3 separate regions of the Homo sapiens genome follow, and all the other regions are linked to region 1. Evidence: fine-mapped expression QTL. A gene starts in region 1. Each other region holds a variant in brackets. All regions are shown on one strand. Distances are from middle to middle.

Region 1 (5,230 bases):
AAATAGGTGGCTTTTATGGCATATGAATCATGCCTCAATAAGGCTACTTAAAAATAACGTCTTGTTTAAAATATCCTCACACATCCGAAGAGATCTTATTCTTTTGGTTGTAAGTATGAAATGATTACAACAACCAAAGCCAGAACTGGCTTTGGTATTTAAACTATTGAAAATGTTCCAGGTTAACATTTAAGACTATGAAAATCTTGAAAGTAGAAAAAATTAAAATGAAGGCATCAAGGAACTTCCGGAGGACATAAAATGCAGTGATTGTTTAAGATGTATTGGGGGCATTAAGTAATTAGATTCATAGGGGTGGAATGTAAGCAAGGAGAGTTAAAGTGCTCATATGAAAAGCCTCAGCCTGGAAGACCCCCTTCTTTACCAGCTTGCAGTGATTCTGAAAGAACAATATTTCTTCATGTGCACTGTTAACCTTATTTTTAAGGAAGATAAAAATACCTCCCCCCTCCCAATATGATTCACTCCAGTAACAAATAGGAAGTCAAGTAAATGATAAAGGGCCAAACAAAAAGAGATTTAAGGAAACACATAAAAAGCTAAACCAGTTCCCAGGAATGGCTACTGGGAAGTTTCAGCAATCAGCATGTGTTACTGCTTTTTACAGGCAGAGCATAAGATGATATGATCTGTGCATAGCTCACAATTCCACTACTGAGACATTTCAACCTGTGTCGTTGTCAGTCCAAATAAAGTCCGTTTCTGTGTTTGCCTTGTGCAATATGCCAGTTAATCTATCCTAGCTCATTGCAGAGCTCCTGGTATGTGTGGTCTGGGGAGTCCATACCTTCCCTGACTTGAAGAACCACCAACGCCAGCGATAAGGAAATGTCCGGGTGCATTAGGAATATTTTTGATCCTCAATAAATCTCTGCTTCTTCCTTGACCATTGCAAACAGTCCGGTTTGCCATCTAGCTGATTCTCGGTACCTCATACAGCACTGTGCTCCAGTTTCAAAGCAAAAATAGGGCTAATATATGGTGGTGGGTGAGGGGCGGGGGTGAGGGGTGCAAGAAGAAAACAAGCAAAGGTTGAACTGGCTTTTCCTACAGAGCCTCAGATTTCAAAATGACTGCCGTAGAAGCTAAAATGACCCAGATTTGGGGGACAAGGGGGGAAGAGGGTCGATATTCATTCCCCTGCGGGGTAGCTGTAGCTTGATTATGGGCGTAAGGAACTAGGGAAGACGGGGTCACCGACATGAAAAGAGAAATAACAGGGAATGGTCTTTAAGTACCACGCACCTCTCTCAGTGAATCACTGCAGTGTCAGCCCTGCACTGATTCCATGATTTGCCAAACAGGATGAGGTAAGGCACAAGCCTGGAGCCCCCTCCTCCTCCTCCTCCTCCCCCTCCTCCTCCTCCCCCCTCCCCCGCGCAGAAAGGCGCATCCCTCCGCGAGGTGCACCACGCAGCCCCCCGCGGCCCTGGCTGAGGGGTGACGTCACCCTTCTGCATTGAGCTTCAAGGACCGGCGGCAGCACTGGATAGATGGGGAGTAGAGTTGGGGCGCTATCTCTATCACCAAGTGGAGGGGACCCTCTGCCAGGGCGCTGCGGATTGTGCTCATGCAGTGACAGAACCACCAGATAGGGAGTGTAAGGATGCAGGGAGGTGGGAAAGGAATCCAAAGACTCATCTCTTGGGTCACCAAGAAACCTCAAAGATGCCCCCGGCTTATGTAAGACCCTCTCCCTTTCGTGCGCCTCCACGCGGTGACAACGCCTGCTCCCCATCGTGCGCTTGGGAGACTTCGGTCGCCCTTGCCCAGCCAGGCAGGCACGGTGCTTCTGGTGCCTCCCTCCCGCAGCCCCGTGGGGTCAGGAATAACTGGGAATCTGAGATTAAACCCCACGCTCCCGTGTCCTCTCCTAGCCCGCCACAGGTTAGCTCCAAGAGGCGCCGCGAACCGGCTGGTAGGGGAAGGGAGAGAAAGGTGTACAGCGAGGAAAACAGACGAATAAACCCGCAACTTTCCCCAGGAGCTGACCCTATCCCGGGAGATTATAAAAGAAACTAATGCATTAACATTTTTTTTTTGGAAGGTCGACAACCTGCAGTCACCGACACTCCGCAGCCCCTTGCAGCCTGCGCGGAGCGAGGTCTAGGGTTCCAGCAGCCCCGACCCGCACCCTGCCATCCTGCAGCCCCGACCCAGCACCCCGCGCCTGTCTCCTTAAAGAGGGGTCCCAGATTTGATTTTTGGTTTGGGTTTTCCTCCCCACTTCTTTTCTCAGAGCATCATCATACGGACCGATGGACAGCGACTCGGCCACCGGCCCGGCGTGGGCACTTACCCAGAAGACGAAGGAGTAGATGATGAGGAGGGTTTTGAGACAGGTTATCACAGGTTTGGTCTCCATTCTCCTCGATGCCATACTACAGAGCTCCGGCGGCGGCGGCGGCGGCGGCAGGCGGCGGGCGGGCGCGCGGGAGGGGGAAGAGGCGGGGCGGGGCGGGGCGGCGCGGGGCGGGGGCGCGTGCCGCGAGAGGCCTCGTGAGCGCGCAGGCGAGGCCGTGCGCGTGCGTGAGCGCGCACCGCGCGGGGCTCCTACTGAAAAAGCCGGGCCGGGCAGTGACTGCGCATGCGGGAAACGCCGCCCGCGTTCGCAATACTGCGCAGGCTTAGACCCCCAGCGGAGGAGGGAGGCGAGGCCAGGCGAGGCCAGGCGAGGCGACACGGGGCGCGGCAGGACAGTGGGGAGGGAATGGGAGAATTTAGAGGCCGGGTCAGAGGTCACGGGAACCTCTCCCAGTCCGCCCTGGCATTTAGATTTCTGCTTTGTACACAGTTGGGCGTTACATTTGCAGGTATGCCTGCACCTGGCTATGGGAAGTTTATGGGTGCCCCGCTGCCCATCAGTCACGTTTCTGCATTTTGACACCCCCCAGGGCCTTCTCACATGGAAATGGCCCCGTAGTCATGTCCTTGGCAACCAGCAGGCCTTGTTTGTGCCAGGAACAGACAGGTGGCCAGAGATACAGCTGGAGGGATGGGCAGGAACGCCGGAGCTCAGACAGACCCCAAATCCTCGCCACCACAGGTATCTGCAGGCTCCTCCATTTTTCAGATTTGTCTTACATTTTGAAATAATAAAACGAAATGACAAGAAAGGTCTGTATGAGGCGTCATTCTTGCTGCGCATACAATGTTTAACAGAATACAGAAAAATGTTTAATATGCCTGAGAATCATTTGCAGCGCGCTAACAAGTACAGTCCACCTCCCTCCTGTAAAGGAAAGCTGCATTGAGGTCAAAAAATAATGTTCACAACCAATTTGGAGTTCCTCAAAAAGTTGAACAGAGTTTGCATATGATCTAGCAACTCCATTCCTGGGTATTTACCCAAGAGAAATGAAAATATATGCCCACACAAAACCATATACATGAATGTTTATAGCGGCATTATTCACAATAGCCAAAAATTGGAAACAACTCAAATATCCGTCAGCTGATGAGTGGATGACCAAAATTCGGTGCCTCCATACAACGGAAAATTATTCGGCCACAAAAAAGAATGAAGTACTACTGGTAAATGCTGCAACGTGGATGAACCTTGAAAATATGCTAAGCGAAAGACGCCAGACACAAAAGACCACATATTGAATGATTCATGTATAGGAAATATCCAAAATAGACAAATCCATAGAGACAAAAGAGATTAGTGGTTGCAGCGAGTGGGAGGCAGGAATGAGGTGACTTTTAATGGGTAAGCGGCTTCTTTTTAGAGTAATGAGAATGTTCTAGAATTACATAGTGATGATGGTTGCACAATACTGTGAATTACTAAAAACCACTGAGTTGTATACTTTAAGAGGATGACTTTTATGATATATTAATTATATCACAATAAAAACGTACATTCCACCCAGATATGGTTTGTAGAGGAACACACAGATTCAGTGGGAGATTTAGCTTGATTGCTAAGAGACTAGTCAAAAACAGCAACACTATCACAGGTTAACTCAATCGTGGATGATGATGTTAAGGATACATATTTGTGAAAGAGTGAAAAACAGAGTCAATAAGGCTTGGGAAAAGCCTGCTAAGGTCAGTTGTTACAGGAGTAATTATTACCTCTATCCAGTTATATGTGGTCTCAGGTCAATAAGGTAACTGTATGAACAGGACAAAAATATGAGGAAGAGGAGAACCTGTTTAAGGAAATTGTCAACTATAACAAAAAGGTATGTGGGCATACAAGGGTGGAATATAGGTGCAGGTGAAAGAAGGGACAGGTTGAGCAAGGTGTCTGTTATAAAGGGGTCTTGGCACACTGATTCTCGATGCTGGGTGCTCATTTGCATCACCTGGTGTTTTAAAACAATTATGAATGCCTGTGCCCAATCCCAGCTATTTGGAGTCATTTGGTGTGGGGTGAAAGCTCCGCGTTTTAGAAGCTCTTCAGGTGGTCTGAATATTAAGCAAGAGTTGAGGGGCATTGCCCCATACTGCAATGAACTTAAACCCAACTTCAGAGAGGAGCTTTCTCTTTCATTCTTACAGACTCCAGGCTGATTCCAACTGCTGCAGCAGCAGGGAAAGGATACTGAAGACTTCAAGCCCAGTGGGTATCCTTAGCATCAAAAGATCTTGGCCATGTATAATTATTTTGTAAAGAGGTCAGAAATCTCAATGTTCAGCCCAACAGTGACACTGCTAAGCATCATAGATAATTTGGTGAGTTAATATATGACATTCACAGAAGACACCCATCAGTTTAAGCTAACTCACCGTCTCACAGTTTGGAGCATTTTTGGAATATCTCTTAGGTCCAGATTCTTGAAAACTTGGACTGTTCTAGCAAAAATAAACCATTTAAATATAAAGATAAATATGAATATTCAGTAATGTAATTAGTAGATAAATTAACATAGCTTGTAGCTAGATCCTTGCTCTCCAATTGTGGCCCATGACATATATATAGGGTGACAAGCCATCCCAGTTTGCCCAGGACTGAGGGGTTTCCCTGCATTCAGGATTTTCATTGCTAAAACCAGGAAGGCCTTGCGCAAACCAGAACATATTAGTCACACTAACCCTGAGCTGGCAGCATTGACATCCACTGGAAGAGCTGTTTGAACATGCAGAACCTCAAGCCCCACTCCAAGCCCATGTTAACAAGATCTCCAGGGGAGTCAGATGCACAGTAATGTCTGTCATGTATTATGGATTGAATTGTGTCCTCCCAAAAGATATATTGAAG
Region 2 (5,230 bases), 72 kb after region 1:
CCCTTCACTCTCTCATTTACCCTCTTCCCTACTAGTGCTTCCAGGGATCACCTTCTAAATAAACTAGTTGCACTCAAATCCTTGTCTCAGGGTCTGTTTTTGACGAAACCTACACTAAGACACCAACATATACAGGGTTTCTCAACCTCAGCACTATTGACATTCATTTGGGGCTGGAGATGTACAAAATGACAAATACACATAAACCATTTTACTGTTTGTGTAACATCAGTTTGGGTTGCGAGGGATATTTTGACTTCTAAGTACTTGTGTGAAGCTATTTACATTTGTACATATACAGATGTATTTGTTTGTCTGATGCGGGGGAGAGACAGTGCACAGAACAGTGTCTCCCCTTAAATACTGATTTTTAAAAAACTGATGTAGAGGCCAAAAATGCTTCTCTACACAGTAGATACCAGTTGTGCCCTCTCCCCAGCTGTGACAACCAAAAATATCTTCAGATATTGCCAAATGTCTTCCAGGGGACAAAATCAGCCCCAGTTGAGAAGTGCTGCTTGCTTGAGGTACCTGTGGGAAGCACAGGGAAGGTAGGATTTGGGGAAGCAAACCTGTTAGGGTGGGCCATGGGCAAGCTTCTCAGTGATTTTAGTGGAGGGCACAGGTGGGGTGAGGAGGAGACTGAGTGTGTGTGTTTTGGGAGAAGAAAATGAAACAACTCTTATTTCATAACTGCCTGGTGCAAGGTGGTCCCTTGTCTAAAGCAGAACAGCTCAGAACTAAACTCAGTACCCCTTACAGTCTCTTTTAGAAAAATGACAAATACACAGAAACCATTTTACTGTTTGTGTAAAATCAGTTTTCAGTTTTCAGGTGAGTTCAGTTTGGATGACAGGTCCTTAAGCAGCTATTTCACGGCCTGTCAGTTTTTCGGTTGCCAGGGATATTTTGACTTTTAAGTAGTTGTGTGAAGCTATTTAAAAAAATCAATATGTGGTTCCAATATGGGGAATGCTGTCAAACGGAGTAGAGGGTCAGAAAAAAGATGCAATGCTTTCTTAGCTAGAGCTTTGGACCTGATTTGGCTGGTATGTTTACAAATGAGGACCCCTGATGAGAGTGACGGAGTTTCAGGGATGGTAAAGGAGACTACAGATGTAGGTTCCAAAACCGCTGTATTCCCTGTAAATGGAAGTAGCAAGGAAGAATAAATATAGGTTAATACCTATAAGACAGTCTTCATCTTATCTATTAGATTCCTGGTTAAAAAAAAAAAGGTTCTGATTGGGGTTCCTCATTACCACTGAATTCTGATACCTTCCAAGGTCAAGCAGGGTAGCAAGCTGGTGCTGGATACTGTACACGCCCTACCCAAATTCCCTTCTCCCTGTTTGATATGCTCAGCACCCAATTTCAGGGTGCTTTTCTGCTAGTTACTAGCACCTGTGACCTTCTTTGGCGGCTTTCTCTTGGACTAATGGAGTTGCTTCACTTGTACATACCTCCCATGTACCCTGGGAGTTTTTTATTACCCTGGGGAGGCCCACGACCATTGGGCAAGAATATAAAAGCCCAGTTCCCTTGTCTCATGTTGAAATAAACTCTAGGTGTGATTTGCACCCCAGAGCTCCACCTTGAGATCATGACTAAGCTGTGATATTTCCTGACATTGAAGCTTTGTTTATTGGCTTCTTTCTCTGTCCTGCTTTCCCCACTTTGTTTTGGTCTCCCTGTGGGAGCACCTTCCCCATAAATCACTTGCACAGGAATCCTCATATCAGGGACTACTTCTGGGGAATCTGATCAAAGATTCTCAAGGCATCCCAAGGTTTATATTTGAGTGAAAGGGAAGGTGAATTTTACCACTCACGTGTAATGTTTCAGAATCTTACCCTATCCTACAAAATAGGCACTCATTCTTTTTTTTTTTTTTTTTTCTGTAATGGATAATTATCTTGGTCTGGAGAACTGAGAAAACATACTTCTGCCACCTTTGCACTGCTCCTCCTGCTTCCACAACGATCAATGCCTCGGGAGGCATTGTTGATGCTTGCTCAGCCAAGGGAAGTAAGAGGA[G/A]CTGCCTTTGCTTGTGTTCTAAATGCCTTGATCTTGAACACTCAAAGCTGTACCTATGTGCTTTCGTGCTTGAAAGGGTGTAGCCACCCACAGAGGGTGATTCAGCAAAAGAGGTCTAGCAGTGAGAAAACTTGGATCAAAAACATATTGGGATCTGCTTCTGATACTTACTGGGGTTTGAGAGGATCTCTGAAATTTTATTCCAAAACTGATCGATCATATAGCACCATTTTTTGAGTTCTTTCTACTTGTTTGGCAGCATTTTCTTGTGCATTTTATCACTTAACCTTTGTAGCATACTTGTGAGATATTAACATCTCCATTTTATAAGCAAGAAAGCTGAGGCTAATAGAAGTTATATTACCTGCCTAAGTTCACACTCACAGTGACGAAGCTGGGTTTTGAGCCTACCTTGGTCTGATTCTAACGGCTGTGTGCTTAACTACCTCCAGAGTATGGCTCTGATATTGGCTCTTTTTTTTTTCTAAAGTAATGACGGAAAGATTTGTCAACATTTGCACAAGGCAGAAAACTATCTCATCTGGAAAGGTTTATATAGACATTATTCTCTTCCAAGAGGAATAAGTAAATGTATAGGAAATTGAAATATATTAAATGACCCTGACATGCTGCAATGCAGGTAATATTTTATATGGTGAAGTTTTCTCTAAGCTTAGCATTTCCTTATTATAAGGTCAATATGATGATTAATTGTTTATGTACAAGGTAGAAAACAATCATTTTCTTTGCAGTCATTTGGAGAGCATTGCATCTGGTTTAATTTATCTCTTATTTAGTTACCTGCTAGGGTTGTTCTTGGGTTTGAATTTTTGTTTTTCCTCCTCCTCTACACTGCCAGCCTCTTTTCTGCCCTAGAACCAAGGCCAGGAAGACTGCAGAACTATGCACTCATGTTTTATCCAGTTAATTCCCCCCAAGATTGAAAAATGTGACTATTTCTGAATATTAACAGTTTTTGCAAATTTCAAATGCAATATGAGAATACTTTTGGACTACAACCATCCATGAAATTAAAAATGACAATATATCCTGTATTTAGATAAAGGATATGTGTTCATATTTTACCTTAAGCAGTAAAGGAAGACTCCAGGCTTCTTTTTGAAATTTTAAGATGTCAGTTTTCAGCAACAGAGAAAATACAAATTGAAAGCTGCTGAAAAAAATGAATTTTTATTTTTATTTAGTCCGAAGTCCAAAGTTCAAAGCAAAACTCTCTTCTCTGGGGTTCAAATCTTGTTTACCCTGAATAGAATATGCCTTCTTGTTTGTTAGAAAACATACAAAAGTGTTCTAATTGTGAAACAGCACCAGGAAAGTGGTATTTAGGAAAATAAAATACTAAGCATGGACTCACAAAGCCGGAGGATACCCTGTGAGAACATCTTCCAACAGGAAATGGCCAACTCATTCAACTTATATGGATTATTTTCTATTTTGGTAGGATTTATAAATCTGTATTTTTTGTCTTTTGCACTCATTCACATGATGTTTCAGTTAATGGAGCAAGGTCCTGAACCCTAAGAAGCCACCAGTACCTAACAAAACACCTGGTACATATGCCATTCAATAGAACTTTCTAGAAGAAATAATTAGGTCAATGAATAAAAAATATAAAGTGATGAATAGAAAATTTATGATAGGGTTCTTACTGGTATGATTAAGTAATAAAATGGAAACAAATCATGGTCAAGTTCAATGTTTTACAAACTCTATTCATAGTATAGGTTTTCTTTTCCTTCTCAATGGGTAAGGTGACCATGTAATATATATTCCAAACAAGGACCCTTTTGAGAGGGAAAGGGGTGCTATTAATCATTATACCAAGACAACAGGACCACTTTGGACAAACTGTAACTAATGGTCACTCCCAATGAGGGATTAGGAGCAGGAAAAAAATATGTACATAAGCCTCTAAATTTAAAAACAAGGGAGTTTTAACTCACAAATGAAGATTTAGAGGGATTTCACTATGAGTACTTTTGATGTTCTTACCTCATCTTAGAATTATGGTAAAAAATGAGCCAAATGACAAATAAAGACTCCTTTCTAACAATTAGGAAAGAAAGAGGAATTAAATTGTTATCAAAAGCTACAAGGAGAACTATAAAACACCGGTAAAAGAAATCATAGAAGTCAAACACAAAAAATAGAAAAACACGTGCTCATGGAATGGAAAAATCCATACTGTTAAAATGACCATACTACTCAAAGCAATATACAGATTTAATGTATCCCCTATCAAATTATCAGTGTCATTTTTCAAAGAATTAGAAAAAAGCAATCCTAAAATTTACATGGAACCAAAAAAAAAAAAGAGCCCAAACAGCCAAAGCAGTCAAGCAAAAAGAACAAAGCTATAGGTATCATATTACCTGACTTCTAATTATACTACAAGACTATAGTAACCAAAACAGCATGATACTGGTACAAAAATAGACACACAGATCAATGAAACAGAATTGAGAACCCAGAAATAAAGCCACATACCTACAATCAACTGATCTTTGCCAGGTCGACAAAAATATACACTAGGGAAAGGACACTATATTCAATACATGGTGCTGGAAAAATTGGATAGCCATATGTAGAAGAATGAAACTGGACCCATATCTCTCACCATATACAAAAATTAACTCAAGATGGATTAAACACTTAGATGTAAGACCTGAAACTATAAAAATCCTGCAAGAAAATCTAGGAAAAACTCTTCTGGATATTGCCCAAGTCGAAGAATTTATGACTAAGACCTCAAAAGCAAATGCAGCAAAAACAAAAATAGAAAAATGGAATTTAATTAAACTAAAATGCTTCTGCACAGCAAAAAATAATCAATGGAGTAAACAGGCAACCTGCAGAATGAGAGAAATATATTTGTGAACTATGCTTCCAACAAAGGACTAATACCCAGAATGTACATGGAACTCCAAAAATTCAAAAAGAAAAGAACCAAATAACCCCATTAAAAGTGGGCAAATAATATGAACAGATATTTCTCAATAAAAAACATACAAGCAGCCAACAAATATATGAAAATGCTCAACATCACTTATCATCAGAGCAATGCAAATTTAAACCACGTTGAGATGCCCTCGCACACCAGTCAGAATGGCTATTACTAAAAAGTCAGAAAAACGAGAGATGTTAGAGAGGATGCAGAGAAAAGGGAACTCTC
Region 3 (5,230 bases), 81 kb after region 1:
TTTCAAATTAGCACACAAATATAGACACATAAATCTGAATGAGAAAAAAAATCACCTAATCCTATGAGACCAATTGAAAGGCTGTAATTTGAGGTAAAATGTTTGTGAAGAAGGATGAGAAAATGTATTTCCAAATAATACATAATATTTGTCAAACCATTACTTATTATGTTTTTTAATGTCAAGAATGGGGCTGTAGAAGAAAGCTTTATTAAAGTCTCCCAAGTAGGTTAAACTGTTCTTTGGTCATCAAATAATTCTTGGAAAACACTTACTTGCTAATGACTTAAAGTTCTCAGCAAATTTATTTGTGGAAGATGGGAATTTGATGACATTAAATTTCAAGAGATTAATTTGTAAACAAGTCCCACAGTGATTTCCTCTATGGATAAACATTGTGTGTGTGTGTGTGTGTGTGTGTGTGTGTACTTGCACAGAGAATTATAATAATTCTTGTATGACCAAGTTCCTTATACCAGCCTTCAAGACTCTTCTTAGTCTACCCTGTATAATTTATTAATACCTTTTAAACTGAATTTTCTATTACTTTCCCATTGTTGAAGTTTTGGGGGTGCCAATTGCTCATCTTTCCTTGCATCCAAGAAGCCAGATTGGAATCAAAATAGCTTTGCTGATGGTAAAGCCAAATTGGAGAATGTGTGAGGGCTTCCTACTGCCACCCCCTGAATTAAACAAACCTCATGGAGACTCAGAGGAATGCTGGCAGCCCAAAGGAAGTGGGGAGGGCTTGGCAGGCCCATCGCCTTGTCATTGCAGTGCCGCTGTGCCCTGGCTAATATGCACCAATAGTCACTGGGCTCTGAGAGTTCTTCACATTCACCCTGCTACTTCTCATGGATTAGAAGTGTGATAAAGGTCTCCTGCAAATGACTGCAAGAGCTCTCTGCCATAGCCAAACTGCTCAGTTTGCTGGTCCCAGGACGTGTAAAGCTCCTTTGGTTCCCCTCACCTGGAATGCTCTTCATAGCCCACTTCATTAAATCAAACCCAGCCTGCTTTTCAGCCTAGTTCCAATCTGCCTTCTGTGAAATTTTCCCTGACCAACTCAACCCAGTCATCTGGCATGGGTTCACCTTGTTTGTTTGTTTGTTTTGTTCTCCAAATATTTATTGAGGTCCTACTATATACAAGACAATGTACTTGAAATAATGCTGTTAACAAGACAAAGAAGCTCCTTAACCTAAGGAACATGCAGTCTAGTGTTAAAGGCAAATACTAACCAGATAATTCCACCAATAAGCTATCATGGACTATGGTGAATGCTGTGAAAGAAAAGTTATGGGTAGCCATGAGAGGATCACATCTGGGGGCCTGATATGGTCTCAAGAGAGTAGGTGAGGTCTCCATGGAAGAGACTTTGGGTTACATTCTGAAGGATGAATAAGAGTTATGTACACAAGGGATGGGGGTGGAGGAAGGATGGTGAGGAGCTGTCCAAGCAGAAGTAGCAGCATGTGCAAAGACCCCCAGGTAAGAGAGGGCACAGTGCATCTGAGGACCTGAAAGAAGACCAGAGTGGCTGACAGCAGAGAGCAAACAGGAGAGGGGCTCGAGATGAGATGGGAGAAGGTGTAGGTAAGGACTTTGGCTTTTATCCTAAGAGAAGTAGTGAGCTATTGGAGGTTTCTGAGCAGGGGACTGATATGATAAGATTTGTATTTTATAATCACTCAGAGTGCTCTGGGGAGAATGAACTAGAGAGGGCCAGAGAGAAAGTGGAAAGACTAACATGGAAGACAAAAGTATAGGGAGAGGATATAGAGAATGGGAGCATGTAACCCTATGTTGGTCGAGAGGTAGTACGGTAGAGCGTAAAAACAGTGGCTCTGAAACCAAACTGCCCAGCTTTGTGCCCTGGTTTTGCCATGTACTGTCTGACCTTCAGCAGATTACCTAAGTGTTCTCAGTTTCCTGATCTCCAAAACGGGGCTAATACCTGTCTACTTCTTAGGTTATGTGAGGATTAAATGGTGAATACATATTTAAAAACTTAGAACAATGTCCAAGACACAGTAACTTCTTATTAAACGTTGTGGCTACTCTGTTAAACATAAATTATGCCTAGAACCACAGAATGGTTTTTCTCACTAACCAAAACAAAAAGAAAACATTCTTCTGCTTGATGATGGGCATTCAAACTGTTTTATTTATTTATTCGTTAACTTTTTAATTTTTTAGAGATGGCGTCTCACCATGTTGCCCAGGCTACATGCAAACTCCTGGGCTCAAGCGATCCTCCTGCCTCAGCCTCCAAAAGCAGCTGGGACTACAGGAATGTGCCACCATACCTGTGCTCAAACTTTTTCAATAACAGTGATTCTGCAAGAGAATCCACAAAATGGACAAGAATGGCCTTGAAGGAAATACAGATCTCAGAAGGGTATTTTTAACAGAAATGCCCTTGAAGGAAGCACATGTCATTCCTGGGAAATTTATGGTTGGCTTCACCACCAGCCTGCTTTATTCATTGTGGCTCCCCCTCTTTGCCCCGCCTAAGCCATTGCTATGCCTGGTTTCAAGCACGGACTCAGTCAACACTGGGTTCTGAAGATTTTACTGGGGACGAGGAAGTCCATGCATCAACCATACGCTTCATTCCAGGAATGGCCCCCTGATATTTCATGTCTTGAGGCTAGTCAGGTCACTAAAAGGTAAGAACAATGCCTATAAACCAATAACCCAGCCTGATGTTCTGGAATTAAGTCACAATGAGGGACACTTGGACTACTATGTGCCGAACACCTGTTCTAAGCCATTCTCAACATTCCTGATTATAAATGCAACCTCCTAGTGATTCTGGTTTTACATCTATGGGACTGTGTGATCACAAGAGCAAAAAAGCTCTCATGTATCTGAAGACCAGGGTGGCCTATAAACCTAGA[A/G]CTAGCTCAGGACAAAGGAGAGATCTCACCAGCCCAAAGAAAGCACCAGAAGGTCAAATAGCTGGGAAAACCTGGGCAGGGGAGGCCCTCTCCAGAAAAAGTAGGCTGCTGGACCACACAGCCACAGAGACACAATGAGAAAACAGACAAGCGCCCTACTCAAGATCACAAGGACAACAGTTTTTCACTGAGAACTGGGCTAGGAATAGGAAAATTGGCAATAGGCCAGTTGTCCCTAGAATAAATCAGGTAAATTCTGCTCCAGAGAGGGCAGAGCTGGTGGTGCTGTTCTTCAGGGCAGCACAGCCTCTTTCTGCCACACCTTACTCAGCCAGGGCCAAGTTTGTAGACTGCAGCTGCTGGGTCTCCCGGCAGATGTTCTGCTCCACTGTGCCACACTCAGCTACGAACGTCTGACTTTTTTTTTTTTTTTTTTTACCAAACCTTTCTTTTTTGATCTATTGTCTTTGAAATTTTCTGGCAGGATCAGTGTGTCGATCTCTTCCAAGATCTTCATAAACTGTTTGGTTGTGGCTTTTCCTCTCCTACCAAGTTTGCAGAGAGCTTCAGCTGGCAAATCCTTGGCCAGAAAACCTTGCTGGAGTCCAGTAAGCTGTTTATTCAACTCTTAAAGTTCGTCAGCTTTCTTCTCCACAGGCTTCACCAACTCTTTCAATTTCTCCAGTTCAACCTCTTCCTCTGGACTGTTCTTTTTCCCAATTAACATGACTTGGCAACCATTTTGTATTCCACATGCTGACAAAGGTATCTCCATTTCCTTCAGAGATGTTCCCTTAAATATGAGTTTCTGAAAAGACAGTGGAACCCCTGTGGCCTCTCCAACAACCTGGGTCAGGTCTTGGGCAATTGGTTCACCGCTGGACCTGCTGCAGGGTAACGTGAAGGTCATGCTTCTCATTGCTGTGAGTGACGGTCATGCTGAGCTTGGCTGCCACCATTTCCTCCTTGGTCACCTTCTCGCTCCAGGCTGAGCAGGGGTGGATTTTTTTCTTCACCCGCGGTGAGCTTGGCCAGGGGGTCCAGGGTCTCTGACTGGTGAGGCTCCTGGCCTAGCCAGGAGCCCATCCACTTCCAGTCTGGATTCATCTTCTTCTCTTAGTTCTTTTATGACTCCCACTAGACTATAGGCAAATGGAAGCTGGAAGGCAGGTAGCACAGTGGTTGAGCAATGGGCTCTGGGCCAGACTACTGTGGTTAAATCCTGCCTCCATTCTAACTCACCTTGGCCCAGTCCCTTCACCTTTCTCAGCCCCAGCTTATTCATCTGAAAAACTGGACATATATGCTCATAATCATAACACTACCCAACTCATAGATCGTAGTGATGATTAAATGAGATAAACCATGAAAAGCCCTTAAGCGATGGCCCAGCATATGCTAAATGCACAATAGATGTTAGCTACTTTTATCAACTGTGTCCTAGCTGTGCTAGTAACATCTCCAGTTTGCTTCCCAGTTTCAGTAAAACAGGCAACTTTAGATTCTAGAATCTCCTTTAATGAGCATTCCTCCCTCTAAATAGCTCCTATAGGAATAGGAAGTAAAGTGTAGGAATTTGCTCATTTTTTGATGTGATGTTCAGTGAGTAGGAGGGGAGAAAAAGAAAATGAAGGAGGACCACTCTCTCCTCAACCAAACAAGTAGAGTCATCTTATTTAGGCCCTGGGATTGTTTTAATCACTATACTGCTAAAAAGCAGCCATGGCAGCATTTTAACCTCTTTCTCAGGAAGGACAAGCTGCACAAAGGGGTCGTTTCAGAAGTAAAACTAATTAACTACCGGCTGCTAGTCTGCATAGTTTCCAATTCTTGGAAGTCTTCTCCACCCACTCTTCGCCCACACATCCTCCTCCTTCCACTTTGTGGTAGCCTTGGATATACCAGAGTGAGGGAGCAGGGACTGAATTGGCACAATCAGAATTCTAGGCATCACTGAGGCCTTGAACTCTTTTGCACTAGGGCCTGTTTAAAGCTCTTGCTCTTCAGGTACCATTTAGAGGACTCTTCCTCTCTGGAAAGAAGCACAGTCTTACAGGTTGAGTTACAAGTGCTACTTATTTAGAAAAGGGAAATATCTTTATTACACTCATGTAGTGTTATTTATCTCTGTAAGCCGTTTAGCCACCCTGATGAATAATTTATTCATTGCAATAATAATAAAGCAGGTACTAATCCCTGGGGGATTGGGGTGGGGACACACATTAGGAATGAGTTTTGAATTAATGTAAGCTTTCTGCTTAGTGTAAACTCCCCAAGAAGCAAATATTCTCCTCAGGATTTTAGCAATTCTGATGGCTAAATTAGAG

Alleles and levels. Positions count from the first base shown, and alleles are read on the strand shown. Sizes are in standard deviations (SD) of each study's normalised expression. Not every link is listed here.
For the expression in thyroid of the gene that starts at base 2,406 in region 1, allele G in region 3 goes with a lower level than allele A (small effect, 0.37 SD a copy in GTEx).

The links. PIP is the estimated chance that this variant, and not a neighbour inherited with it, causes the effect. A credible set is the group of variants that fine-mapping cannot tell apart.
Region 2: its variant is the best candidate, but not a certain one, in a credible set for the expression of TSPAN7 in thyroid (GTEx, PIP 0.81).
Region 3: its variant is the best candidate, but not a certain one, in a credible set for the expression of TSPAN7 in thyroid (GTEx, PIP 0.63).

What each region holds. Positions count from the first base shown.
Region 1 is chrX:38,558,718-38,563,947 of GRCh38, reverse strand. It overlaps TSPAN7 (tetraspanin 7), which reads right to left and starts at 2,406. Exons shown (of 8, transcript NM_004615.4): 1 at 2,321-2,406. The coding sequence starts at 2,401. RefSeq lists an enhancer at 1,805-2,306.
Region 2 is chrX:38,486,360-38,491,589 of GRCh38, reverse strand. No RefSeq gene overlaps it. Among named protein-coding and RNA genes, the nearest start is that of TSPAN7, 73 kb to the left of the region's middle. The variant G/A (reference allele first, on the strand shown) is at 2,038.
Region 3 is chrX:38,477,910-38,483,139 of GRCh38, reverse strand. It overlaps the pseudogene BAG1P1. Among named protein-coding and RNA genes, the nearest start is that of TSPAN7, 81 kb to the left of the region's middle. The variant A/G (reference allele first, on the strand shown) is at 2,904.